Linked DNA regions of Homo sapiens: regions 1, 3, 4, 5, 6 and 7 are each linked to region 2. Evidence: fine-mapped expression QTL. A gene starts in region 2. Each other region holds a variant in brackets. All regions are shown on one strand. Distances are from middle to middle.

The links. PIP is the estimated chance that this variant, and not a neighbour inherited with it, causes the effect.
Region 1: its variant is the best candidate, but not a certain one, in a credible set for the expression of LPL in lung (TOPMed, PIP 0.65).
Region 3: its variant is the best candidate, but not a certain one, in a credible set for the expression of LPL in blood mononuclear cells (TOPMed, PIP 0.52).
Region 4: its variant is the best candidate, but not a certain one, in a credible set for the expression of LPL in whole blood (INTERVAL, PIP 0.85).
Region 5: its variant is the best candidate, but not a certain one, in a credible set for the expression of LPL in tibial nerve (GTEx, PIP 0.88).
Region 6: its variant is the best candidate, but not a certain one, in a credible set for the expression of LPL in whole blood (TOPMed, PIP 0.64).
Region 7: its variant is the best candidate, but not a certain one, in a credible set for the expression of LPL in spleen (GTEx, PIP 0.57).

Annotation. Positions count from the first base shown.
Region 1 is chr8:19,971,516-19,975,584 of GRCh38, reverse strand. No RefSeq gene overlaps it. Among named protein-coding and RNA genes, the nearest start is that of LPL, 34 kb to the right of the region's middle. The variant G/A (reference allele first, on the strand shown) is at 2,175.
Region 2 is chr8:19,937,096-19,941,164 of GRCh38, reverse strand. It overlaps LPL (lipoprotein lipase), which reads right to left and starts at 1,912. Exons shown (of 10, transcript NM_000237.3): 1 at 1,637-1,912. The coding sequence starts at 1,724.
Region 3 is chr8:20,072,233-20,076,301 of GRCh38, reverse strand. No RefSeq gene overlaps it. Among named protein-coding and RNA genes, the nearest start is that of SLC18A1, 110 kb to the left of the region's middle. The variant T/C (reference allele first, on the strand shown) is at 1,897.
Region 4 is chr8:20,038,301-20,042,369 of GRCh38, reverse strand. No RefSeq gene overlaps it. Among named protein-coding and RNA genes, the nearest start is that of LPL, 100 kb to the right of the region's middle. The variant C/G (reference allele first, on the strand shown) is at 1,803.
Region 5 is chr8:19,899,494-19,903,562 of GRCh38, reverse strand. LOC107986921 (a long non-coding RNA gene) reads right to left here and starts at 1,831. Exons shown (of 3, transcript XR_001745822.1): 1 at 1,772-1,831. The variant C/G (reference allele first, on the strand shown) is at 1,675.
Region 6 is chr8:20,085,242-20,089,310 of GRCh38, reverse strand. The region is part of intron 1 of LOC105379311 (a long non-coding RNA gene); the gene reads right to left. Among named protein-coding and RNA genes, the nearest start is that of SLC18A1, 96 kb to the left of the region's middle. The variant C/G (reference allele first, on the strand shown) is at 2,205.
Region 7 is chr8:19,980,788-19,984,856 of GRCh38, reverse strand. No RefSeq gene overlaps it. Among named protein-coding and RNA genes, the nearest start is that of LPL, 44 kb to the right of the region's middle. The variant C/G (reference allele first, on the strand shown) is at 1,960.

The DNA of each region.
Region 1 (4,069 bases), 34 kb before region 2:
AGTTCCTTTTTGTCTCCTGGTTGTTTTCTCCTTCTTAGGACATATAGGAAAATCTCTTTCTAGAACAAATTGTGTTCCTTTTCGTTACATCCTTGAGAAACTCAGTTTAATGAATCAAAGAAGGTATTTTTAGAGCATCCTACATGTTCTGTTCCCAGGAAGAATGAGTGTACTGGTCAATTTTGATTACACCCTCTGCTTGTAGAAACCTACAGAAGTGGAGACATGGAGAGAAAAATGAGAAGTTTCATTCATTTATGCTGCTTGTTGGAGTTTAAAAGTACTTATTCATGACAGTCTTTATTCATTTATGTATGCATTTGTTCAACAAATTATTAAATACACTTATTTTTATACTTTGAATTTTTAAAAGAAAAGTAGATGGATAATATAATCGTTATTGCCAAAGGAACTGAGAAGGCAAGACAAACAGTGATGCAAATCAATTTCTGGGCAACAGAATGCTGGGGGAAATGTAGGGCCAAAATAATATTGCAACAGCATTTTTCTAGCTTCTTCGTCCCCCTTCTTTATATCCAGGTATCTTCAGCATCTTTAAATCATTCATAACAAACTTGGGTGAGAAACAGAGCAGTGAGTAAAGTCAGGGTTAGCATGTACAGTATAGTGCCTGTGCATGAATTACCAAAATTTGCCCACTCTGGGCAGATGAATTACAAAAAGACAAGTGTATGAAGACCTTTGTCACTCCTAGCTTTTTTTTTTTTTTTTTTTTTTTTTTTTTTTTGAGACGGAGTTTCGCTCTGTCGCCCAGGCTGGAGTGCAGTGGCGCGATCTCGACTCACTGCAAGCTCCGCCTCCCGGGTTCACGCCATTCTCCTGCCTCAGCCTCCCGTGTAGCTGGGACTACAGGCGCGCGCCACCATGCCCGGCTAATTTTTGTATTTTTAGTAGAGACGGGGTTTCACCGTGTTAGCCAGGATGGTCTCGATCTCCTGACCTCGTGATCCGCCCGTCTCGGCCTCCCAAAGTGCTGGGATTACAGGCGTGAGCCACCGCGCCCGGCCCACTCCTAGCTTTTCTATATACTCCCATAAGTCTGCTCAAATATGCCACAGGCTGCATGACACTAGCACCTTGCAAAATTGCCCGCACATCGTAGGTACTTGATAAAAATTTGCATTGACCTTACATTTTCCTTCCTTTTTCCATCCGGCTGTTACTAATATCACTTGTCACAACCCACCACAAACGAGTTGCCGAAGCACAGGGGGTGTCAAGGTTCCCTGACCTGTGGAGTCCGCACTGAAGTCAGTGCAGCTCACAAAAGCCACCATAGACCCCAGCACATTAGAAGCTTGCTGGGAAAATGTTGGACCACCATGCCCCACACCATGGATGCCAAATCTAGCAATTCACAGATTATCATAGTTGCTTCTCCCTAAACCTCAGGCAACTCCCATAGGCTGGGCTGCCAGACAATAGAAACAGACACATGGTGGAAGTCAAAGTTGCCTCTCCTCTCTGTCTTGGGCCTCCATCCTTGAGTCACTTTTATGTGTTTTGCTTCTCTTTTCTCTTGGGAAAAATTTTTTCTGCCAATGTATTTCTGGTGCACCATCTCCAAGTGCCCCAGATATGTTCAAACAGGCTTAAAACTCAAAGGGGGGAAAAATCAACAACTCCAACTTTGAAGTCACACATTGGTTTAAAAGCCAACTCACCCACTTACTAGCTTTGATTTCTAAATTAATTCATTTCCCTGCATCTCGTTATATTCATCAATAAAGAGAAGATAAAAATACCTATTTCAGGAGGCTATTGTGAGAATGAAACAAATGTTAACCAAGCACTTCACACAGTGCCTGGCACATAGTTGATGCAGAAAAACTGGTAGTAATTATTTTTAGTAACACAACATCGGAGCAAGTACATGCAACACTTGTGCTGACAGGTAGATCGTAGTGGTAACATAGCAATGGAAGAAAAAAAGATTTCAGAAGGGAGCTCAGAAGAGTGAAAGTAGTCATTAAAGGTACTTAGAAAATAGGGTGGTCATTATAGGCAGAGAGGGACATTTGAGCAAAAATATAGAGACTACAGAAAAAAACTTTGTTTAGGGAAAGAGTAAGAGGCCAGGTTGTCCGGCGAAGAGCTTTATGTTAAATGCATGAAGAATAACTGGGATTAGTTGGAGAAGTCTGGGGAGTACA[G/A]TGATTTATTGTCTTTACCGACCTACTCTCCTTAACTTGCAACTTGGACCATTTGATCACCATTAAGGGACTTTAGGAATCCAAATTTTGGCCTAGCACAGCATGACTCAGGAAATGGTGTTGGGATTGCATCCTCAGGCTATCCCATTGTGGTGATGTGAGCTTGGACTTTGCACATAACCTCTCCCCATTTGTAATGGGGCAATGGTGCCAACCTCATAGAATTATTATGAGGATTAGAAAAGATGTATTTGAGGGCCTGGATCACATAGTCTTTGGATCTAAGGTGCAGATCTTGTGCCAATTCTTAGCGTCTCATCCATGATGTGATTTCTGCTGCCACACCAGTGCCATCTGGAAACATAAAGATTAAGGGAAATATCATCATCCTCAGCTTATGCTGCCAAATTTTATAAATCTTATTATTGATTCTTATCTCCTTTAGAGCTTTCTCCAGTTGTGTGCTAAGAAGGAATTTCATTTTGATTATGAAACCTTTGTGTTTCACATTTGGCTGAGGAGGCATTGTCTTTGACTTAGCAATCTCTTGATTAAAAGACCCTGGAGTTGTTGGAGCCCTGTCAGCGGAATGGGTGGAGTCGGAGAAGTGCCTTCATTCCAGATACCTTCTCTTAATCTCATGTCAGCAGATTTCCATTGTAGGTCCAGAGCCTGTTACAAGAGGATGAAGGATCTGAGCCCTGATAAAGGAATGAGGTCCCTATGCTGGAACTCTAGCACAGGCTTTCTGAGTGAAGTCTGTTCAAAGCCCACATTTCCTGAAAAATCAGTCATCATGAGGAACTGATCTGTGAGGACCAGAGAACAGAGTTGCCAATGTAATTCGATGGAGAGAGGATATTTTTTTCAACAAATTGCTGGAATAATTTGACTATGTAAAAAAGAAATTATTGCCACAACTACCACAACAAAAACAAAAAACACCTCTAACCACAGATAGTACCATATACAAAAATTAGCTAGAAATGGGCTAAATGTAAAACAGGGTGAATAACAACAGTATGCGTACAAACACACACATGCATATGCAAACAATAATTTATAGTTTTTTTGTTGTTAGGCAGGATGAAAAATACAGAGAGTTGAAGTACTGGGTAGAGGAATGGGATGCTACGATCTACTCTAGAAAGTTCACCTGATTCATTATTAATAGACTAATGAGAAGCAAGAGCAGTAGCAGAGAAACCAGGAGAGACTATTGAAATAATCCAGTGAAACCTGATGGCATAACATTAAAAATGGTAAAATGCAGTCAGATTCTGGATATATTTTTAAGTGAAGCTGATAGAATTTTTTTTTTTTTTTTTTTTTGAGACAGGGTCTTTCTCTGTCACCCAGGCTAGAGTGCTTTTTCGCTAATAAAAGCTCGCTGCAGCCTCAACCTCCTGGGCTCAAGCTATGCTCAAACCTCAGTCTCCTGAAAATACAAGTATGCATCACTATGCCCAGCTAAGTGTTTTTTTTTTTTTTTTTTTTTTTAGTAGAGATGGCGTCTTGCCATGTTGCCTGGGCTGGTCTCAAATTCCTGGGCTCAAGTGACCCTCCTGCCCAGGCCTCCCAAAGTGCTGGGATTACAGGCATGAGCCATGACACCAAGCCAGTTTTTTTGACTGATTGATTATGTATTGCGGAAGAAAGAACTCAAGTATGGATTCCAAGATTTCCTCCTGAGCAACTGGAAGGAAGAAATTCTTTTAACTGGGAGGAGAAAACTGGTGGATAACAATGTTTTATAACATGATAGGTTCCCAAAACCTATTAGAAAGCCAAGTGGAGATATTTGATAGACAAGTGGATATATTAAAAAGTCTGAAATTTAGAAGCGAGGTACAAGATGGAGATGTAAATTTTGGATTCATCAGCAGCTGTGTGGT
Region 2 (4,069 bases):
ATACTTTTTTTCTTATCCAATTTTGCTTTGATGGAATCTATACTTAGTGTTTGTTTTGTTTTGTTTTAATTTTATGAGACAGGGTCTCACTGTCACCCAGGATGAAGTGCAGTGGGGCAATCACAGCTCACTGCAGTCTACTGAAACTCCCTGGCTCAAGTGATCTCTCAGCCTGCTGACTATCTGGGACCACAGGCACAGGCCACCACGCCCGGCTAATTTTTGTATTTTTTTTTTATAGAGACGGTGTCTCCCTATGTTGCCCAGGCTGATTTCGAACTTCTGGGCTCAAGCTGTCTTCCGGCCTCGGCCTCCCGAAGTGCTGGGACTACATGGGTGAGCCACTGCTCCCTGCCAACTTTTTGTTTTTTAACCTAACAAAAATGTTTCACAAATTAATGCCAAAATAAAACAAACGTTTAGCGGCCATCAAAGCTATGGAGAGACTCTATTATAACTTGAACCGCTGGGGACGTGCCGCCTGAGAGCACATCCAAGCGACACCGCCCTAATTGCAATTCCAGCATGGAAGAAAAAAGGAAATGTTGTCCCGTGTTATGAATGGCTTCAGCTGCTCTCTATGCTGCTGTTGCATGTTTACTGAATCGAGGTTCGAATTAAGCAGGCTGCCTCCATTGCGGACAGGTCTGAGACATTCTCATTTGGCCCCGAACGCCTGGACCCCAGCGAGCGGGCGGTTCCCTGGCGGCGGTGACCACCGTTGTGCTCGCTGCCTCCACGCGGCGCCCGTCAACCCCACGTGCTCGCAGCCGCGCGGCGGGGCCGGGCGCCCGGAGCTGACCTCAGCCCCCAGGACAGAAAGGGTGGCCAAACGCAGACCTGGCAACCCCCCGAGTCGGCGACCACAGATTGCTGGTGGCTGCGCCACGGTTTCGGGAGGGTCAGCCCCTCGCTGGGTTCTCAGGGCACTAAGAAAAGAGGGGCATGCGAGCCTGGAAGCTGGAGAGAGTCCGGGGCTCCCCAGAGCGGGTGGGACGCCGCGTCCCCAGGACTCCGCGCCACGCGTACTTTCTCCACCCCGACACCCACTGCCACTCCCACAGCGGAGCGAGGGGCCCCGCCGAGGGCGAGCGTACCCCGTGCGGCTGAGATGCCCGGAACGCCTCCCCGCGCCCCGGCTTCCCCAGAAGGGGCCACAGTCGGCCCGCGAGTCCCCGGGCGGGGGCTGAGCCGCAGTGCCAACCAAGGCGAGGTCACCTTGGCCCGCGCGCCTTTCATTCCAGGGCCCCTCCGGCAGAGAGGTGACTGCAGGTCACCGCCAGCCGGGCCCTTACTCCCCGCCTCCGCCGTCCCGGCCCCCACACCCCGGAACCTCCCCGGCGGAGCCTGCGAGCCCGGGAACGCGGTCCCAGCCAGAGTGGAAGGGATAGCGCGGGAACCCGGCAGAGAGAAAAAGCGGGAACTGGGCGCCGCCGCTTCACGATCGGGAGGAGATTCCCTCCCGGCCCCTCCTGGATCCCACTCCGGGGACCGTTTCGGGGCTAGAGCCCAGGCTGGGAGAGTCCCTGGGCGCATCCACCGCCCCTTCCAACTTCCTTCTTCTCATCCTCAGTTCGGGTGGCAGTGGCCACCCGCCGGGTCTGCAGGTGGAGGGGAGTTTGCGCGCAAAACTTACGGTCGGCGGCGGCCACCCCTCCGCGGGAGGCGGTCAGACTCTGGAGCCACACGGCCAGAGTCAGCACGAGCAGGGCTTTGCTCTCCATCTCGGGGCGCGTCCCTCTGGAGGAGCTGCAAGGCGCGGACCGACTGATGAGCCGGCTGAGCCGGAGGCTGGAGAGGGCTGGAGCCGCGGTTTGGCGCTGAGCAAGTCGCCCTTTAAAGGGGATGGCAGGGCAGCTAGAAGTGGGCAGCTTTCCCTTGAGGAGGAGGAAGAGGGGGAATCGAGTCTGACACTGTTTTCACGCCAAGGCTGCTTATGTGACTGGAAATATGCAAATAAACCTCATCACCTATTGGCTATAAAATCATAAGTTGGGGGGAGGGACCTAAATTCACTTCTAAACGTTTGAGCAAACAGTAATGAGGATCAACCCTGCCAACGAGAAGAGGGGGAAAGGGCAGACGGAAAAATTTGCTTTGTTAGGCTCCTGTTCGCTTAGCTTAAGGGGTTCCACTCTACCCGGGGGCCCCCTGTCTAAGCACCAAACACAGGTTTACATCGATTCACGTTAAATACTCAACAATCACCTGTTTTCCAAGGAGGGAAAGTTTAGCTGTTAAATTACATTTGATCGGCACTTTAATACACCTCTCTTTTGACGAATCCTGTTTGTCACTTGCAGTCCTCCCTCACTCACCCCGCACCCCATCCCCACCCCCGCAAAGTCAATGTAGGGATAGAGGGACACACATTGCGTCCCAGCTTGTGCTTGTACAATCTGGTGTTTTAACATTGGCAAGATGGATCAGCTTATGTGATGGAGAAAAGCCTACTTGCTCTAACTAGTTTCTAATTTTTGTCTCATGCAAATTATTCTCAATCCTCAAACTCATCAAGGAATGCAAGGATAATATTTTATGTTCAGAGGCAGAACATCGAGGTCAAATAATCTAAAGCCGTATTGAGTTATGATAAGTGAAAGAAGATAGTCGCAAAAGACACATATTGTATGATTCCATTTAAAGTGTCCACAAATAGACAAATCCATAGAGACCAAAAGTAGATCAGTGCTTGCCTGGGGCTGGGTAATTAATAGGGGAAGGGAAGAATAGAGATTTGGGGGTAGTTGATGACAATGTTCTAGATTACATTATGCTGATGCTGCACAACTCTGTAAATATACTAAAAGCAACAGAATTATGCACTTTCAATGGGAGAATTATATAGTGTGTAAATTATAGGTCAGTAAAGCTATTTTTAAATGGATAAGAGGCATGCACATAAAATAAGAAAAAAATAACATTAGATACTATGCTTTTCTGCCAAAATGCTTGGAATACTTTTAAATATCTTTTTAAATATAAGGGATTTACATTAGCCAGGAAGGACAATGAAGTGTATCCCCAACCCCCTCTCAGTTTATGGCTGAGAAACTGGCTCATCAAATCAGAACCTCCAATCTACTATATTTATGGTCTGAATATTTTTAATGTCCCCTTTTATTCATCCCACCCTCCGTCACACACACACAAACATACAATGCACAATTGTAGGTTAGAACAATGAAATGCTTTTTAAAAAACTGGGCTCACTTTTTAAGTTTTTCTCAAAAAATGAAATAAAAGTTGATAATACCCAAATATTTCAAAGGTCTCTATTCTGCATAACAATTCTATCTTTAAGTTGATGCATTCCGTGCCACAACACAACACACCGTCTTGTATTGCAATTATTACACAATATACTGTGCACGTTCACTCTAACCTACAAAGTATGTAGAGAATCTTGAAACCTGCCAAAAATTAAACTTCGCAGAACTTTAGAAGTGGCAGAACAGACCATGCAAGGGATGAATAACTATGATATGGCCGTCCTCCAAAAATCATGTAGTAAACTCTAATTTTAAAAAATGACAGAAGATGAATACAATTGCATTGGATGTGTTCATGGTGTGAATGGCATATAAACAGACGTGCAGAACTGCCTGCTATCTTATATAGAATACTCCTGCAGCCTATTTTCATGCATAAATGTCCTTTGATAAGACAACCAAATCAAACTGCACTTCTGTGCCTTTCAGAAAACTGCAAGGAGATTTTATATAATTGCTAAGGGAAAGTCTGATACTTATAGCGTATTTTTAAAATGATTTCCCAGGCTAACCAGATAACAAAATTAAAGCACTCAAGAGTTGGAGGATATGTAATATTTAAATATGAATCCAGTTTGGAGTGAACTGTGCCATTAGCACGTCCAATAGAGTTGCTGAGATTTCCAGGAAGACTTAATTTACAGCAGCTTAGCCTGGTTAAAAAAAAAAAAAAAGCAAGACAGGTTGGCTCCTCTCCCAGGGCCAGCGCGGAGCAGGTGGGTGTGGCGGCAACGTTCTCTCCTGATTGGCTGCACTGGGAGCCATCAGGTGCCCGCCTTCTAACGCAGAAACTCACA
Region 3 (4,069 bases), 140 kb before region 2:
GTGTTGTCAGGGAAATCTTCACTGAGAACTTGATGTTTGAATAAAACCCAAAGGAGGGAAGGTAGCAAGCCAAGCTGATGTTCTGCAGGACAGTGTGCCAAGCAGAGAGAAGAGCCACTCACAAGGCCCTTGGGGACAGGTACTGGAGGAATGCAAAGGGGCCAGTGTGAGTGGAGTGGATGAGGCTAGCAAGAGGAGACAGATACTGCAGGGTCTTGTAGGCCATTGATAGGTCTCAGCACCCTGCTAAAACCATGACCACTGCGTCATGTGTAACCCTGACATTTGCAAAGCATTCATTTTCAGTGTTTGCTTATATCCTTGATCAAACTTGGTTCAACCCCGAGAGGAAGAGAAGCAGACCACTTCTCATTGTCTCCACTTTAGAGATAAACCAGACGCCAAGAATACTGAATAAATGACCAACTTCTCAGAGGGTGATTTGACCTCCCGTCTCTTAATTTCTAGACTGTTGCTTTTTCTACTGCATCTTCATTGTATTTCAGGCCATTTGTGCTTTGAAAATGGAGAGCTGATAAAAACGAGGAAGCTCAAGCCTTATCCTCAGCAATTATCTTGGATCATTTTGATTCAAGGGCTCTCTCATTTCTTGGTTTATTTATCTCACTATCCACAGCTACAAAGCAATGGTGCAGGGTACACACAGCCCAGCTCTACTGGGCACCATTCGTACAGACTGCAGTGTGAATTGTGCCCCTTGGTGTTGAGCCAAGTGCAGGCACTGCTGTGGTGTACTGTCTTTCCTCATCTTGACTTTGTCTCTTATTTCTAGCCTCACATTTGAATTCTCTGTAGCAGAATTTCATCTTCCCAGTTTTGAGTTTTGGCAGTCCCTAGATAGAACATGGTTTGCACCCACACTTTCGCAAATAATTGACCTAGACCCAACCCAGTCTTGAGACATCTTCTGGCATTAACTGCCTAGAAGGTATCTCAGTTGTTCCTGTTCCCTCCTGTCCCTCATGCCTAACAAGATTTGGGACAGTTTTGAAACCACTTTTGCAAAAATTTTAAAAATGTGAAAATTATGACAGTAAAAGAGATCTGATCTAACCAATCTCCATCTTGCCTTTAACTTCCAGACTGTCCTTGGCCATTCCTAGGCTTGGGTCTAGCTAACTTTGGGAGAAATTTAGTTTATCATTTAAATGATAACAGCCCTTCCCCAAAAGTAAACCATCTTTCTAAAACTAATGAAAGACTACCAGGTTAGGAGGATGAGAGGAGGCTGAATTCTGCTAAGATGTAGGCAGAATAAACTATTACCTATAAACAAGGTAATGAACCATTACCGGCCATTATTCCAGAGGTCACAAGATTTGCAAATTCTCCGATTACTCCTGTAGATAACATCGCTATTGTGGAACCTAACAAGATTGGCCTTTTGAGATGTCCTTTCAGATTTTTGCATTTCTAACTACCAGATGGCCCACCCGGACCCAGGACTCTGCTCCTGTGGCTCCTACCCAGAAGGGACTCTGTACAAGGACCACTTTCCACACCGCTGTGATTGCATCCAATCAAGCAGTACCCATTCCCTCAGCCCCCCGCCCACCAAACTATTCTTAAAAAACCCTAGCCTCTGAATTCTCAGGGAGATTGATTTGGGTAATAACTTCATCTCCCACATGGCATGGCTGGTCTTGTGTCAATTAAACTTCCTTATTGCAGTGTCACGGTTGCAATGAATTGGTTTTGTCTGGACAGTGGGCAGGAAAAACCCATGGAGCAATTACAGTTTCCTTCTATATCTAACTATCCACCCTTGAGGAAATCAGCTCATAATCTTAGGTAGTTGGTATTTATCTCTGATTCTTGTGTTTATATATTTCAAATCCTCCCAAACCTTGGGCTGCAAGTTTTTTCTGTATGCTG[T/C]CTTTGTGGGGTCTTTGGCAGTTTTTTCACAAATGACTAAGCTTGAGCCAATTTGATGAATGGAGTCTTTAGAAACGGATTCTCGTTTGACACACAGATCTGCTAAGCTAATAAACTTTGTTATGAGCTGAGCAAATTTCCTCTTCTGGAATCTTCCCTGTGGTGACCGGCCTGTGCTGGGGAGGAAATCAGCTGCTTTCTCAAGGGCCTTTGTGTCCCCAGCCCCTGCTGCAAGTTACAGAGGGGTGACCTCTACCATGTACTTTCCCACGCCCCACCTCCTGACTCTGGGGTGTGCGAGTGAGTGTGAGAATCCTTGAAGTTACATAACAGAGAGCTCAGGCAACAGACTGCTTCTGCTTCCTCCATCACCAGGAGAGCTTACTTCTGACTTTGGATCCCAATTCTTCACTAAGGATGCCCTGTCCTTTCTCAATTAAATTTCCTTTCACTTCCTCTAACCCTTCAATCTTGGATTCCCTTTGATCACGTAGTTCTGTTAATCCATAGCCAGGAAGTTTTTGGAAGAAACAGAGGCACCCTTTATCTCTTAACATATGAAATACATACAGGATATACGCATATGAGCACATGCAGTACCAATATGGCACCATGCAAGGACAGCCATCAGAGGATATCCCCACAATGCAACAGCAAATTTTCTTGCTTTCTTATTTACTTATTTATTAATTTTTATTTTTTGAGATGGCATCTCACTCTGTCACCCAGGCTGGAGTGCAGTGGCCCGATTTCGGCTCACTGCAACCTCCACCTCCCGGGTTCAAGTGATTCTTCCGCCTCATCCTCCCGAGTAGCTGGGACTATAGGCGCGCATGCTAATTTTTGTATTTTTAGTAGAGACTGGTTTTCACCATATTGGCCAGGCTGGTCTCGAACTCCTGACCTCGTGATCCACCTGCCTTGGCCTCCCAAAGTGCTGGGATTACAGGCGTGAGCCACCGCACCCGGCGTACCAAACCAATAAAAGAAAAAAAACCGCTCACAAAGCAGGCCACACTGACCCTCCCAATAGTGACGCAAGATAGAATTTCTGGGAGGGGTGTTATAAGAAATTAAGAACTATATATTTGATTTCTGCCCCTGGTTCCTGGTACAAGAGCGTCTAAGAACCCCTAGGAGCTCCCTGAGTGATGGGAGTGGGAGGAGCTTCTTTTGTCGTTCCTAACAAGTTGGGGACTGGTTGCCAGAGGAATCAAATTCAGCCCCATCACCCGCCCCAAACCTAAGGAAGGGGAGAGAGGCTGGGGATTGAGTTAATCACCAATGGCCAATGATTTAATCAATTGTGTTTATGTAATAAAACCTCCATAAAAACCCCTAAATAATGGGGTTTGGAGAGCTTCTGGACTGGTGAACACGTGGAGGTGCCTAGAGGGTGGTGCTCCTGGAGAGGGCATGGAAGCTCTCTGCCCCTTCCCCATACATTGTCCTGGGCGTCTGATACGGTTTGGCTGTTTCCCCACCAAAATCTCAACTTAAATTGTATCTCCCAGAATTCCCATGAATTGTGGGAGGGGCCCAGGGGGAGGTAATTGAATCATGGGGTCAGTCTTTCTCGTGCGTGCTATTCTCGTGATAGTGAATAAGTCTCACGAGATCTGATGGTTTTATCAGGGGCTTCCGCTTTTGCTTCATTCTCATTTTCTTTTGCCTCCGCCACGTGAGAAGTGCCTTTCGCCTCCTGCCATGATTCTGAGGCCTCCCCAGCCATGTGGAACTGTAAGTCAAATTAAATCTCCTTTTCTTTCCCATCTCGGGTGTGTCTTTATCAGCAGCGTAAAAACGGACAAATACAGCCTCTCTTCCATACGCTGTTCCTGAGTCGTGTCTTTTATAATAAACGAGTAGACTGTTTTCCTGGATTCTGTGAGGCAGTCGAGCAAAATATTAAATCCAAGCATGGGGTCGTGGGGACCCCTTATTTGTAGCCAGTTGGCCAGAAGTTTGGAGGTCCAGATTTACTACTGGCATCTGAAGTGGGGGGCTTGTGTGTGGGACTGAGCCCTTCACTAGTGGGGTGTGATCTAACTCCTGGTGGTTAGTTTCGGAATTGAGTTGAATTACTGGACACCTAGTTGATGTCTGGAGAGTCACAGTGTTGGTGATTGGTGTGGAAAAAAAACAAAACAAAACAAAAAAACCTCCCGCATTA
Region 4 (4,069 bases), 100 kb before region 2:
TAAGGCTTGAGACCTGAAAATATAATCATTGGCTTCAGTATATTCCAAGAAAGCTGCAAAATCGAGCTTGAAAAATATTTGACTAAATGTCCACAAATATATGTTAGTGTTACTAAATGCTGAATTTAATACTTATAAAAAGCTTATTACATTCAAGCACAACTTCAGGCTAGCCTTTTTTCACTTTACAAAAATTCCTGAGGAGGCCTAATGAGTACCAAAATATCAGAGTCGAGTGTAAATTACAATGTAATTTACAAAAGTAAAAGTAAAAATGTAAATACATTTTAAATTTTCAATTAAAAAGTATATATAATGTGGGCTAGGTGTGGTGAATCATACCTGTAATCTCAGCACTTTGAGAGGCTGAGGCAGGTGGATCACTTGAGGTCGGGACTAGCCTGGCCAACATGGCAAAACCCCGTCTGTACTAAAAATACAAAAATTAGCCAGATGCGGTGGCTCATGCTTGTAGTCCAGGGTACTCAGGAGGCTGAGGCAGGACGATTGCTTGAACCTAGGAGGCAGAGGTTGTAGCGTGCTGAGATTGCACCACTGCTCTCCAGTCTGGGCGACAGAGTAAGACTCTGTCTCCAAAAAAAAAAAAAAAAAAAAAGTATATATACTGTGGATTAAGCATACCTTTATGATATTTTTATGATGTGGGGTGGGTTTGGATTTCTACAAATGGGAGTACTATGGCTCTCCTATGTCCCATAATGGTCTTGGGGAACTGACTAGTTTGCTTTAAACACAGCCCAGATCCATTTTGTATATACAATCACTCCTCCAGCCCACTCAGTTTTCCATGGCTGCATGTTGTTCTTTGACTACGTCTCTTACAGAAGTAGATCTTGATGATTTGGTCCTAAGGCGATCAGTATATTGCCAATTTTAGAAATGTCCCCAACAGTTCTGTTCCAAGATGGCCAAATAGGAACAGCTCCAGTCTGCAGCTCCCAGCGTGATCAACACAGAAGACGGGTGATTTCTGCATTTCTAACTGAGCTATGTGGTTCTTCTCATTGGGACTGGTTGGACAGTGGGTGCAGCCCACAGAGGGCGAGCTGAAGCAGGGTGGGGCATGCCTCACCTGGGAAGCCTAAGGAGTCCAGGGATTTCCCTGTCCTAGCCAAGGGAAGCTGTGACAGACCGTACTGGGAAAATCGCGACACTGCCACCAAAACACTGCGCTTTTCCAATGGTCTTAGCAAATGGCACAGCAGGAGATTATATCCTATGCCTGGTTTAGTGGGTCCCACACCCATGGAGCCTTGCTCACTGCTAGCGCAGCAGTCTGAGATTGAACTGCTAGGCGGCAGCCTGGCTGGGGGAGGGGCTCCGCCATTGCTGAGGCTTGAGTAGGTAAACAAAGCGGCTGGGAAACTCGAACTGGGTGGAGTCCACCGCAGCTCACTGAGGCCTGCCTGCATCTGTAGACTTCAACTCTGGGGGCAGGGCATAGCTGAACTAAAGGCAGCAGAAACTTCTGCAGACTTAAACATCCCTGACTGACAGCTCTGAAGAGAGCAGTGGTTCTCCCAGCATGGTGTTTGAGCTCTGAGGACGGACAGACTGTCTCCTCAAGTAGATCCCTGACCCCCATGTAGCCTAACTGGGAGACACCTCCCATTAGGGGCCAACTGACATCTCATACACCTGGGTGCCCCTCTTAGTTGAAGCTTCCAGAGGAAGGATCAGGCAGCAATATTTGCTGTTCTGCAATATTTGCTGCTCTGCAGCCTCTGCTGGTGGTATGCAGGAAAACAGTGTCTGGAGTGGACCTCCAGCAAACTCCAACA[C/G]ACCTGCAGCTGAGGGACCTGACTGTTTGAAGGAAAACTAACAAACAGAAAGGAACACCATCATCAACAAAAAGTACATCCACACCAAAACCCCATCTCTAGGTCACCATGATCAAAGACCAAAGGTAGATAAAACCACAAAGATGGTGAGAAACCAGAGCAGAAAAGCTGAAAATTCTAAAAACCAGAGCACCTCTTCTCCTCCAAAGGATTGCAGCTCCTCACCAGCAACGGAACAAAGCTGGACAGAGAATGACTTTGACAAGTTGGCAGAAGTAGGCTTCAGAAGGTCGGTAATAACAAACTTCTCTGAGCTAAAGGAGGATGTTCGAACCCATTACAAGGAAGCTAAAAACCTTGAAAAAAGATGAGACGGATCACTAGAGTAAATGGTGTAGAGAAGACCTTAAAGGACCTGATGGAGCTGAAAACCATGGCATGAGAACGACGTGACGCATGCACAAGCTTCAGTAGCTGATTCGGTCAAGTGGAAGAAAGGGTATCAGTGATTGAAGATCAAATGAATGATATGAAGCGAGAAGAGAAGTTTAGAGAAAAAAGAGTAAAAAGAAACAAAGCCTTCAAGAAATATGGGACTATGTGAAAAGACCAAATCTACATTTGATTGGTGTACCTGAAAGTGACAGAGAGAATGAAACCAAGCTGAAAAACACGCTTCAGGATATTATCCAGGAGAACTTCCCCAACCTAGCAAGGCAGGCCAACATTCAAATTCGGGAAATACAGGGACATCACAAAGATACTCCTCGAGAAGAGCAACCTCAAGACACATAGTTGTCAGATTCACCACGGTTGAAATGAAGGAAAAAATGTTAAGGGCAGCCAGAGAGAAAGGTTGGGTTACCCACAAAGGAAAGCCCATGAAACTAACAGCTGATCTCTCAGCAGAAACTCTACAAGCCAGTAGACAGTGGGGGGCCATACTCAACATTCTTAAAGAAAAGAATTTTCAACCCACAGTTTCATATCCAGCCAAACTAAACTTCATAAGTAAAGGAGAAATAAAATCCTTTACAGACAAGCAAATGCTGAGAGTTTTTATCTCCACCAGGCCTGCCTTACAAGAGCTCCTAAAGGAAGCACTAAACATGGAAAGGAACAACCAGTACCAGCCACTGCAAAAACATGCCAAATTGTAAAGACCATCAATGCTAGGAAGAAACTGCATCAACTAATGGGCAAAATAACCAGCTAACATCATAATGACAGGATCAAATTCACACATAACAATATTAACCTTAAATGTAAATGGGCTAAATGCTCCAATTAAAAGACACAGACTGGCAAATTGGATAAAGAGTCAAGACCTATCAGTGTGCTGTATTCAGGAGACCCATCTCATGTGCAGAGACACACATAGGCTCAAAATAAAGGGATGGAGGAAGATCTACCAAGCAAATGGAAAGCAAAAAAAAGCAGGGTTGTGATCCTAGTGTCTGATAAAACAGACTTTAAACCAACAAAGATCAAAAGAGACAAAGAAGGCCATTACATAATGGTAAAGGGATCAATGCAACAAGAAGAGCTAACTGTCCTAAATATATATGCACCCAATACAGGAGCACCCAGATTCATAAAGCAAGTCCTTAGAGACCTATAAAGAGACTTAGACTCCCACACAATAATAATGGGAGACTTTAACACCCCGCTGTCAATATTAGACAGATCAACGAGACAGAAGGTTAACCAGGATATCTAGGACTTGAACTCAGCTCTGGACCAAGCAGAACTAATAGACATTTATAAAACTGTCCACCTCAAATCAACAGAATATACATTCTTCTCAGCACCACATTGCACTGATTCCAAAATTGACCACATAGTTAGAAGAAAAGCACTCCTCAGCAAATGTAAAAGAACAGAAATCACAACAAACTGTCTCTCAGGCCACAGTGCAATCAAATTAGAACTCAGAAATAAGAAATTCACTCAAAACCACACAACTACATGGAAACTGAACAACCTGCTCCTGAATGACTACTGGGTAAATAACTCAATGAAGGCAGAGATAAAGATGTTCTTTGAAAGCAGTGAGAACAAAGACACAACATACCAGAATCTTTGGTACACATTTAAAACAGTGTGTAGACGGAAATTTATAGCACTAAATGCCCAGAAGAGAAAGCAGGAAAGATCTAAAATTGACACCCTAACATGACAATTAAAAGAACTACAGAAGCAAGAGCAAAAAATTCAAAAGCTAGCAGAAGGCAAGAAATAACTAAGATCAGAGCAGAACTGAAGGA
Region 5 (4,069 bases), 38 kb after region 2:
GCGGGCACCTGTAATCCCAGCTACTTGGGAGGCTGAGGCAGGAGAATTGCTTGAACCTGGGAGGCGGAGTTTGCAGTGAGCCGAGGTCGCACCACTGCACTCTAGCCTGGGTGACAGAGCAAGACTCTGCCTCAAAAAAAAAAAAAAAAAGAAAAGAAAAATTTTTGTTAAAATTTAAATACTTTTTCTGACTCGTTCTTGGTCTATTTTGTTCTAGGGCTCTATTTACACATGCCTTAATACCACCTTGAAGGTTATTTTGACTGTTTTAAGTCCTTTTTCTTCCAGTGCTTTACTTAGGATGATTTAAGTTGATCCAATTTCAAGCTCACTTATTCTTTCTCCTTTATGTAAAATCTTCTATTAATACCATCCAATCAATTTTTTTTGTATAAAATTTTTTTTGCTCTAAAATTTTCACTTAGTTTTTTATTGTGGTTACCCTGATACTCCTTACTCTTGCCACATATATCCATCTTTGTACATTTTTAAACATATTTTCATAGTTATTTTAAAATGTTTGTCTGCTAATTCCAACATCTGGGTCATCTGTGGGTCTATTCTGCGTTATACTGTTGTGCCTACCAAGCTGTCATCTCTTCTCTAGGTTCTTCATTGCCTTGGCCCAGATATGTGTAGTTCAGAAGTCAGCAAGGGACTTTTGGTATTTATATGTAAATATTATTAATCATTTTTCATATTATACTATAACAAACTATATATTTTGAAATTAAGGTTATCTTAATTTATAATAAGATTCCAAGGGTTAAAATTATATTTTGGGTTGAGGTACTATGATAATTACATAATAAATCACATATAACACAAATGTTAATAAGTGGTAAATATAAAAAAAAAATTTTATGAGAAAATCACTTTTAATGAGATGGATGGGCTTTCTTTTGACCTAGTCTCGCTCTGTAGCCCAGGCTGGGGTGCAGTAGCACGATCTCAGCTCACTGCAACCCCTGCCTCCTGGGTTTAAGTGATTCTCCTGCCTCAGCCTCTCGAGTAGCTGGGAGTCACCATGCCCAGCTAATTTTTGTATTTTTAGTAGAGATGGGGTTTCACCGTGTTGGCCCAGCTGGTCTTGAACTCCTGACCTCAAGTTATCCGCCCCCTTCAGCCATGCAAAGTGCTGGGATTACAGGTATGAGCCCCTGCGCCTGGCTGGATAGGCTTTTTAAAGTTTAATTTACTGATGTGTTTGTTAAACGTTAGTTATTGCTAGAATGATTCAGTGTTCAGCATCAATTTTATTCTTATTCTACTTTCATACGTGTAAGCATATGGAATACTATTGTATGTAAATAAATAGATAACAATGGAAGAAAATTTGTTAATACTAATGCCATTCTGTTCTTAGAATTTCTTCCTAGTTACATGCTAAAAAGTCATAAACTCTTCTAACATTAAAAATGATTTTCAAGAATTGTTTGCTTACAGCTGGATTAGGGCCTCCTACATTTTTTTCTTTAGAAAACAAGGAACTAGAGACAATTTTTTACCCAGTGAATAGAGTCATTTATTTTCTCAAGACCAGAAACCAGTATTTTGAATTGTCTCATTGTTTGGTGTCCTGGAGGACTTTATGTCCCAGGGCTCGGTACTCAATAAATGGTAGCTATTCTCACTGTTTATGGGCCCCAGAGACCCTCAAGGCACTGACTATAC[C/G]CCTACTGTGGCAGTTTCCTCTTATTCCCTTCAAAATATCCAACATGAATTCACAATTTCTTTTAGACTATTCAGATCTATGTAGATAATCTCTTACCTTCTTTATGAAATTGTCCTTAGCACTTCCAGCCCTCAGAGATCTTTTCAGAACTCTTCCAGCATACAAACTGTTCTACATCATTATCAGGGTTACTTACATAATGTTGTATACTGTTTTCTTTCTCTGTTAATCATGTGGCCCGAATAAGATTACACCCTTTCTGAGAACAGCAGTTCTGATTTATAATTCTACAAACTACACACATACCTCATTGCTGAATATTTAATTGGGTTTTAAATGACATATGTGCCATTTCACATTTTAATTCTTATAGTATATCTTGGCTTCTGATCAGCATAAGCTGGACTCCTAACAAGAATTTGCCCATTGCACTTGATTGTGATTTGCCCCAAATTTCCAAGAAACTCAGTCTCAGGAATTACACAGTGCTTCAGTTTCAATCTCAAAACTAAAGAGAGAGAAGGGAAAGAACATTTAACTCCTACATGGAGGAAATAGTATTTACATAACTAAAATTGTAAGCAACTGCTTTATATTCTTGATCATTACTATACTTGAGTATTGTGAATTTACTGATAAACAGAAGAATGCGATATGTAATAATAGGTAGATAAATTATCAAATTACTCTGATTGATTTTATATTATTTTGAAATGATAGCAGGGTTAATACAAAACTATGGGATTCCTAGGGGAAATGATTAGCTGGTACTTCATCCTAACTTTCCTGTAATAATTTTGGATGTCTGAAGCAGTGTCAATTCCGGCAAACCCTGCTGAAGAAATGAATTTGTGTTTCTTCATGAATCACTTCCTTTTTTATTTTTCATTCATTATGCATTTATTGATAATGTGTGAGTCACACGAAGGTGAATATAATATGTGGTCCCTGCCTTGACTCTCTTCTTTGTTCCTGGCTAGTAATGGGTTAACTGGAAAGTTACTCTCCTCCTGCCATCTCCATTTCCTCCACCCTTCCCCACAAACAGATAAATATGCTGAACCCCCAATTATTACATGGTATATTCAAAGTCACCTGAAAGTTTAGGAATGTGGCTGACAGCACAATTTCTCAATCTTTTTAATACTTACTATCCTTTTGAGGATCTTAATAGACCTTTTTTCTTTTATTTTATTTTATTTTTTTTTTTTGAGACAGAGTCTTGCTCTTTTGCCAGGCTGGAGTGCAGTGGCACAATCTCGGCTCACTACAACCTCTGCCTCCTGGGTTCAAGCGGTTCTCCTGCCTCAGCCTCCTGAGTAGCTGGGACTACAGGCACGCGCCACCACGCCTAGCTAATTTTTGTATTTTTAGTAGAAATGGGGTTTTGCCATGTTGGCTAGGATGGTCTCGATCTCTTGACCTCATGATCCGCCTGCTTCGGCTTCCCAAAGTGCTGAGATTATAGGTGTGAGCCACTGTGCCCGGCCGATCTTTCTTTTCTAACAGTGCCCCACCCATGAAATTTTAATACCACAAACAGACTGTATTTCTTTTTTTAAATTTTTTTTTTTTTCAGACAGAGTCTCGCTTTGTTGCCCAGGCTGGAGTGCAGTGGCACAATCATGGCTCACTGCAGCCTTGACCTCCCAGGCTCAAGCTATCCTCCCACCTCAGCCTTTCAAGTAGCTGGGACCACAGGCATGGGCCAACGCACCTGGCTAGTTTTTTAATTTTTTTTTGTAGAGATGAGGTCTCCCTATTGTTGCCCAGGCTGGTCTCAAGCTCCTGGCCTCAAGTGATCCTCCTGCCTCAGTCTCCCAAAGTGCTGGGATTACAGCTGAGAGCCCCTGGCACGTGATGCATACTGTGTTTCTGTTTAGTGATGTTGGCCTTTCAGAGGGCCACAAACCATTATAATATGAGAGATTCTTTTTACTCCCTAAAAAACAATTATTGCCCCCTTGGCAATGCTGCTTCTCCCATTAATCATGCATGGTCTTGAGTGTCAGCCACACATATTCTGTTGGATGTCTCGCTGGCCCTCAGTGTTGTCCCTTGACTTTAAATAAGAGGTCACTGGGAGGATCCAGAAACCGCTAAGTGCTAGGAATGTATCTTTGTGCAAGATAGTCATTGTCCTTGTCTTTGAAGAAAATAAAAATATTTTTCCCCAAAATATTTTTGACATATTTTGCAATGGCTGTTCGGAGAGTCAGCAAACACATGTAACCCTACAAAGCTGTTTTTATTGGGGAGGGTTAGTTTTTCAGGGCTGGGCACATTACCCAAATCAAGCCAGTGATTACCAAGTGCATCTGTAGAGAATCTGCATTGAGGCAGCCAGGCCTTCCCTTGGCCACATCTAGGGAAGATGAACTGAGAATCTGATGC
Region 6 (4,069 bases), 150 kb before region 2:
AAAAAAAAAAAAAAAAAAAAAAGACTCTTACTGATAGCAAGTACCCTGAGGGAGTGTGTGGTGGGTAGACTCCAATTTTTGCTGAAGGTGGCAGTGGAGACATCCCCCTTCCCCTGTTTCCAGGGCTGCCCCAAGACAGAGGGTCCCCTCTGCTGCCTGGCTGGCCTAGCCAGAGTTCCGGCTCTTCTGGAGATCCTGCACATCTCCTGAGAGCTTTGACTCAACCCCTTTCTTGTTTGAAATGTTTTAAAAATAACCATGCTTAAACTCCACCCAGCCCCCGCCCCCACCCCTGCCCCCAAATCCTTACTCAATTATTGGGGAGGGGAGGAAGATGGATTTTTTTTAATTTTTTTTTAATTTTTAAAGTGCTTTACAGGCAGCTATAATAGGCAGCCAAAGATAAAAGGCGTGAGTTCAATCAAGACAGTGAAGGCAAAATTCAGGAAGAGTTTTAGATTAAGTGGTACTTTCCTGATGAATGACAGCAAGTTGCAGAGGGCCTTGGGCCAGACTGTCAGGGTGTGCAGGCCCTCTGGGCATGGGGGTCTGGCCAAGACAGTCCGTCTGGGGATTTGCAGGCTGACCCCCACTGGGCACAAAAAGACTAACCCTGGTGGTCTTCAGGGAGATTGTGGCAGTGAGGCTATGAGGGTTGGGGAAGGGCCAGGGGTCTTGACTGAAGCACTGGAGCTTTATCAATCTTCCCTAAGCTATTCTAACAGCTAAGCAGTCAACAAGGGAAGTGCGGGGACGTGGTGGGTGCTCACTGTGGAACAACCAACAAAGGATGTGAGACAAGAGGGAATATCCTACCCGTTTCCTCTGACAATGGGAGAGGGTGGGTTATGGAAAGATCCTCTCTATGTGGTCATCCCCAACAAGGTTAAATTTACATGCTGAATACGGTCACACATTTAAAGTACTTAAAGCAGTGCCTATGGCATAGGAAGAGCTTAATTAATAAAGGCTAAGCAGAAAGTAAAAGAGATGTCTCTGAAAATGCTTTTCCTTTCTGTGTATCAGTGTAAGAATTTTTTTTTTTTTTGAGATGGAGGCTCTAAAAACAGGAGAGCCCTGTTGCCCAGGCTGGAGTGCAGTGGCGTGATCTCAGCTCACTGCAACCTCCGCCTCCCAGGTTCAAGCGATTCTCCTGCCTCAGCCTCCCGAGTAGCTGGGACTACAGGCGGGTGCCACCATGCCTGGCTAATTTTTTGTGTCTTTAGTAGAGACACAGTTTCACTATGTTGGCCAGGCTCATCTCAAACTCCTGACCTCGTGATCCGCCTGCCTCGGCCTCCCAAAGTGCTGGGATTACAGGCGTGAACCACCATGCCTGGCCCTGTAAGAATTGTTTGTCTTCAAAGAACTAATGTAGTTGACAAAGCCAGTGCATTTACCCATCAGATCTCTTTTCCTGCATCTCCTGGACCTGGGGTAGATTCTGTGATTTGGCATATTCTCAAGATTGATGGCAAAAAGTTTCCTGCAAATACATTCCAGAAGACCCATGATCCAGAACCCATTTCCAGGGCTCTGCATGGCTGAAAACATAGGCAGAACACGTGAGGAAATGTTCCACTGAGCTCAGCTCCTTTTGGAGTCTCCAGAGTTTGGGATTTACTGGTCCAAAGGCTGTGTCTCTCTCTATCTCTTTTATTTCTTTTGCATAATTGATCCCAGCAGAATTCTGTGAGAGGAGTAGGAAGACAATATGTCTTCCGTTTACTCTGATGGGCCCCTCACACATTGAAGTTTCTTGTTGAGTGCTATGAAGCAAGAATTTATGTCTGCTTTGGAGATCTTCTAGAACACGTATTGAGAATTTACTCCTTACTGTGTGTTGGGACCTGTGCTTGCTCTCATTCCTGTAATCTCATGATCTTTATGACAATCCTGTGAGGTAGGGTAGGGGAGTCATTAAGATTTTAAAGACAAGGAAGCTTAAATTTAGAAAGCTGCTCATCTAAGGCCATGGAGTGAGTTGGTAGCAGAGCTGGGATTTGAACTCATCACCTCCCCAACAGACCTTTCTTCTCCTCTAAGTGCTGTGACCCACAGCTGTGTCCTGGAATACAGTAAGCCTCTGTGGCAGTAAATGTCCCTTGGTATCCCCCTAAGTGCTGGCTTCCTCTTGGACTGGGCCGTCCAGTGGGAAGTGAGATTATGTTAGATCTACTCCCAGCCATTCACATCAGCGGCCC[C/G]ATTTGTTTCCCAAGACTCAAGGGTCCCAAGGGTTTGGAAGCACAAAGAAGTGCCTCAGGATACCCACGTCCTGGCTCCCTAGACTGATTTGTCTCCAGGCGCCAGTGTCCTGACCCCTGGTATATCTGCATTCCTCATCTTCTTCTGTCTGTTGCAGGGACAGGAAGTGGGGAAATCACTGACCTTTGACTTAAGAGGAAACACGGAGAGAATAACAAGCAAATGCAAGATGACTGTTAATCAGATGATCCTGCCATCTCCAGATGGCTATCTCCATGCTGGGGGCAAAGGAAGGGAGCCTGCCGGGCCAGTCTGTTTTTTGAGGCGTGGCTTCTCTGTGGCTTTTGTGTGGGTTCCTTGGTCTGAGTACCAAGAAGCTGTTGCTTCCTGGGATGTTTAAAAATCAATCAAATATGGAACTTAAACACGTAATTCATCCAGGGAACCAAAGTGGCAAAGGTGGGGCTAAGAATTAGAACTGGGTTTCTTGTCTCTTTATTCAGTGCTCTTTCTGATAACAGTATAAAGGACAATTTCTGGAAATATTAAATTTCTATTTCGAAAACAATGTGAAGTTTTCTAAATAACAGGTGGAGATACTGCCCCCTGTCTATGAAGTTCCCAAAGCTGGGTCAAATTTGGAAGACATAATTTCTTACACTGATACATAGAAATAAAAAGTGTCTTCAGAGATATAATCCCTTTAATTTCCTCCCCAACCTTTATAACCTCTTACGGTGGGCTAGGCACTGCTTTAGCAATATAAACTGAGTTAAGGCATTTAATCATGTATGTAGTTTTAATCATGACCACATTAAAGATATTGCTGGAAAATCATAGCATTGGCTAACGCTCATGTCCAGATGCTGACAGAAGTGTTTTGCACATGTTACCTTATTTAACCAAAACTCCTCCTCTGAGCTCTAGACCCAAATCACCACCCACCACTTCAATATCTCCTGTTGAGTGTCTCAACAACACATTGAGTTAAACATGTCCTAACGGAAGTGTGTGCTGCCCCGCCCCATCCCAGACCCTCCCAGTGTCCCCTGTGGCAGTGAACAGCATCTATTAAACAATACCTAGACTGAGGAGTTGCCCTTGACTCCTCCCTCTCCCTTGCACCCCATTTCTGATCCATCACCAAATTCTGTGGATTTTATGGAACCCTATGTTTCTCTCAGGCCTATCCACACTTCTCTACCTGACTACTCTATTCCAAAATACCATCATTTCTTACTTAGATTTTGACGGAAGCCTCCTAACTGGTCTACCCATATCTACTCTTGTGCTCCTTGAAGTGTTTTCTAAATTGCATCCAAGATAATTTCCTTAATAAGACAAATATTAACATATTCTCTTTTTAAACACACATTAACAAGTCCCCACTGCTCTTAGGATAAAGACAAAACTCAGTATGGTGAGGAGGGCTCTGTATGGGGCTGCTGCCTCCCCTGCCCCCTTGGTTTCTATGGCATTCTCCTGCCTCTGCAGCTATACTGTACTTCTTTTAGTCTTGTTCCATATAATAGTCCCAACAGTCACAGGACCTTTGCACATACTGCTTCTCCTTGTCTAGTTAAATCTCTCGTCATTCATATCTCGGCCTTCCCTAGCCTTTAAGATTAATGAAAATCTCTCCCATTCCATCTTTTCATAGCATCAAGGACCTCTCACTTATAAGATTTGTCATAATTATTATTTTTATGTATTTATGTGGTTCATATCTTTCTTCCATAAGGGCAAGTGTATCTATAATTGCTCAAAATTGTATTCCCAGTGCCAAGAATAGTACCTAACCTATAGTAGATGCTCATTTTATAGGTGTTATCTGATAGACGAATGAAATGAATAAACAGATTTG
Region 7 (4,069 bases), 44 kb before region 2:
TTGTAAGAATGATTGAGACTCATGTGCAATTTATATAATATTTAAATGCAAGGGATGCTCCCCCATTTGTCCTCTGGCAACGGCCCTCCTTGAGCTAAAGAGATTCCTCCACTAATACCTCAGCAGCAGCAGCCTAATTAAGATCCCTGATTTTTCTCCAGCAAAGGAGGTGCATCCTTCCAATGGTAATTCCCTAAACTTGTGTTCTGCCTCCCTTTACTAGGCCTTTCTCTCCAAGGTCAAATAAGCTTCCCCCCACCGCCCCCACTCTCTTTACTAAGTTAAAGAAGGGTTCACAGATTTCCCCACCTTATTTTCCTTGGCTGCTATGTCTCCCCGCCCTCCTGATCTTACTTTGACAAGTTTCTCTAAGGTCTTTCAATTGCTGTCAAATTGCCCAGCCTGCTCCTTCCTTACCTGGACCTGCACCCTCAGCCATGACCCCACTGGCTTCACCCACAGCCTGTCCCTGCTAAGGAGGCCCAAGAGTGAGTCTAGATTCCGCACGTCACCTCGGGCTCATTACTTAACTTTTCTGTGTCTTGATTTCCTAATTGTTCAAATAATGACTATAAGGGGCCTAATTCACAGGTGTGCTGTGAAGATTTTAAAAATTAATGTGCACAAGTTCATGCACATAAAGTTAATTTGCATAAAGTGCTCAGCACAACACCAGCAGACAGTAAACGCTCTGTACATATGAGATATTATTATACGATTCTGTGCAAACCCCAAAGGCAGGGTTTGCAGGCAATGTAATCACCTCTATTCCAACTGCACAGGTGACAAAATTTACAAAGGTTGAAATTTTAGGTAAAATCAATTATTTTGCATTGTATACAAACCCTATCTCTCTTCCAAAATATACATTGTTTGAATTTATATGTATTTTTATAACACTTTGTGATCACGCTCATCTTTGCTTCTCACTAAACATTAAATGTGATATAACCTAACTGAGGAAAGTAAGGATGAAATTTACTTGTTCTGAAGACTCTATCCACCTTACCTATCTGGAGACAGACTAGCTTATTTTAAGATGTAAAATTCATGCAACTGATTGTTTTCTGAAATAATCGGTAGAATTCAGTTGAATCCAGTCAACTACAAACATGTATTTTACAAAGCAATTATTATTATATTTTTAAACAAAGCATCCTTTGGGCTGATTTTGAACTTCAGCAAAAGGCTTGTGTGCCATTCTACAAATTGTCTTTTTCAGAAGAGTGGATGCTAAAGGGCCTACATGGGTCTGTTAGCTCCGCTCTGATTTTCAATAAAGACCAGCGATAATGATAGTGACAAGAATGATAATAGCCACCAGATACTGAGCACTTAGCATGCTAAGAATTTTACCAGGAAATTCCTATTTAATTCTGACAACTGCCCTGAATATTAGATATTATTAGCTTTATTTTATGAAGGCAGAACTAGGGCACAGGGAATTACTTAATTAGGAAGTAGCAGAGCCAGGACCTGCTACTGTACCTGTTTGTCCCCAAGTCTGAGTTGTTAATGACTGTACCATAAAGCCCTCTCAAACTCATGCTTTAAGGGAAAGAAAGACCACCGTATAGTGCTTTATGCTATTAATTTTCACTCACATTATGATTTTCTTAGGAGTAGGAACTCAGTAAGGATTAATGTGGAGTATGGTAGGGAAAGTACCAAACCAAGAAGCAGGAGATCTCAGATATGTGCACTTGGGCAAGTCACCTGATCTCTTCAGATGATAGTATTCTGTCTATAACATGAGCAGTGTTAAAGAAGAATATTCCTGACACTGGTTAAAATGGTAAGGCACACTTTATTCAGGACCATCACCATTGGTATAAGGTGTACTAAATGGAGTTTTGCAGTAATCAGGAGAAATTGGGCTCAACTTCAAAAACAACAAGAACAATTGGGAATTTATAGCCAATTTTTAGCAGCAGAAGGAAAATTACTAAGAGGAAACAT[C/G]AGAGTTGGAGGAGATTCTGGCTAAATCCAACTAATAGGATTCTTATTGAAGGCAGGCCAGGCGAATCGGATGTCACCTGAGGGATGGTGGAGGATGAGGAACTCAATCACATATCAAAGGTGACATATCGAGGGTCCTGCCTAAACTAACTTAGCAGAATTCTTGCTAAAGTCGGACTCTTGAGAACACATCCAAGGACATGGAATGAATGAAAAAGAGCTCAGAGGAGCCTGTCTAGAGTTTGGTCAAAGAGAGAATCTTTGTCAGGAGGTCAGTGACTCTAAGATGCACACCAGCCTTACCATTCACTTCTCACATGTGTCAGGCATGTTGGTGTGAGAAGATTATGTAAGGGAGTGGTGTTGAGGTGTCTCAGATTTTGTGTCCACTGTGTGGAATGTATCATAATTTGTTTATCCATTCATCAGGTAACAGGCCATCTTCATTTTTTCCAGTTTTAGCAATTTTAAGTAAAGCTACTGTAGTAGTCAGAATAATACCTGCTCCATCCCATTTTTGTTGTTTTTTGTTTTTGAGAGTTTTTTGTTTTGTTTTGTTTCTGTTTTTGTTTCTGTTGGTCAGGCTTTAATGCAATGGCGCGATTTCAGCACACTGCAACCTCCGCTTCCCGGGCTTAAGCAATTCTCCTGCCTCAGCTTCCCAAGTAGCCAGGATTACAGGTGCCCACCACCAGGCCCGGCTAATTTTTGTATTTTCGTAGAGACTGGATTTCATCATGTTGGTCAGGCTGGTCTCGAACTCCCAACCTCAGGTGCTTCCTCCTGCCTCGGCCTCCCAAAGTGCTGGGATTACAGGTGTGAGCCACCACGCCTGGCTCTACCCCTTTGTCTTCTACACACAATGCATCTGAATCATAATCTCCAGAAACTGTGAATATGTTAATGTCAAAAGGGATGTTGTGGGTATGATTAAATTAAAAATTTTGAGATAAAGAAATTATCTTGGTTTATCCAGGTTGGCCCAGTATAATCACAAAGGTTCTTATAAGGGAAGCAGGGAGGTAGGAGAAGCAGAGCCGTGTGTGTGTGTGTGTGTGTGTGTGTGTGTGTGTGTGTGTGTGTGTCTGAGAGACAGACAGATTTGAAGATGCTACATGGCTGGCTTTGAAAATGAAGGAGGCTACAATCCAGGAATGAAGTCAGAATCAGCAAGAAAGTGAATTCTCCCCTAGAGCCTCCAGAATAGACAAAACCCAACATACTTTGATTTAGCCTAAGAGTTATTTTGAACTTGTAACCTCAGAATTGTAAGATAATACATTTGTCTTGCTTTAAACCACGAAGGTTGTGGTAATTTGTCACAGTAGTAATAGGAAGCTAATACAGCTGCTCTAAATATTTACTGTAGGTTTTGCGTCGATATTTTGCATTTCTCTTGGGTAAAATTCCTAAGAGTGAAAATCTGGGTCCTAGATACATGTAAGTTTAACTTTACTAGAATCTGCAGAACTGTTTTACAAAGTGGCTGTACCATCTGGCATCCCCACCAACGATGTCTGGGAGTTCTAGTTGCTCTAAATCTTTGCTAACAATAAAGTTGGTCTTTTTATTTTAACCTATATAATATTACAAATTATGTTGAGCATCTTTTCATATGTTTCTTTCCCAACAACATTTTTTCTTTGGTGAATTGTCAAAATATTTGTTCATTTTTAAACAGTTTCCCATCCCCACTACCATCACCTGCCTTCAGCAACCACTAATCTATTTTCTGTTTCTGTCGGTTTCTCTATTCTGGACTTCCATACAAATGGAATGATAATATGTAGTCTTTGGTGGCTGGTTTCCTTCCCTTAGCATAATATTTTCTAGGTCTATGTGGGATGTGGTAAGTAATAGCATGTATCAGTACTTGGTTACTTTTAATGGCTGAATAGTGTTCCGTGGCATGATTATGTCCCATTTTGTTTATTCATTCGTAGGTTGATGAATATTTGGGTTGTTTCACCTTTTGTGCCTTATAAATAAATGTGCTATAAATGTCTATGTACACATTTTTTGTGGAAATATGTTTTAATTTCTTCTAGTTATGTACCCATAGTGGAATTACTGGGTCTTATGGTAACTGTATATTTAATTGTTTGACCAA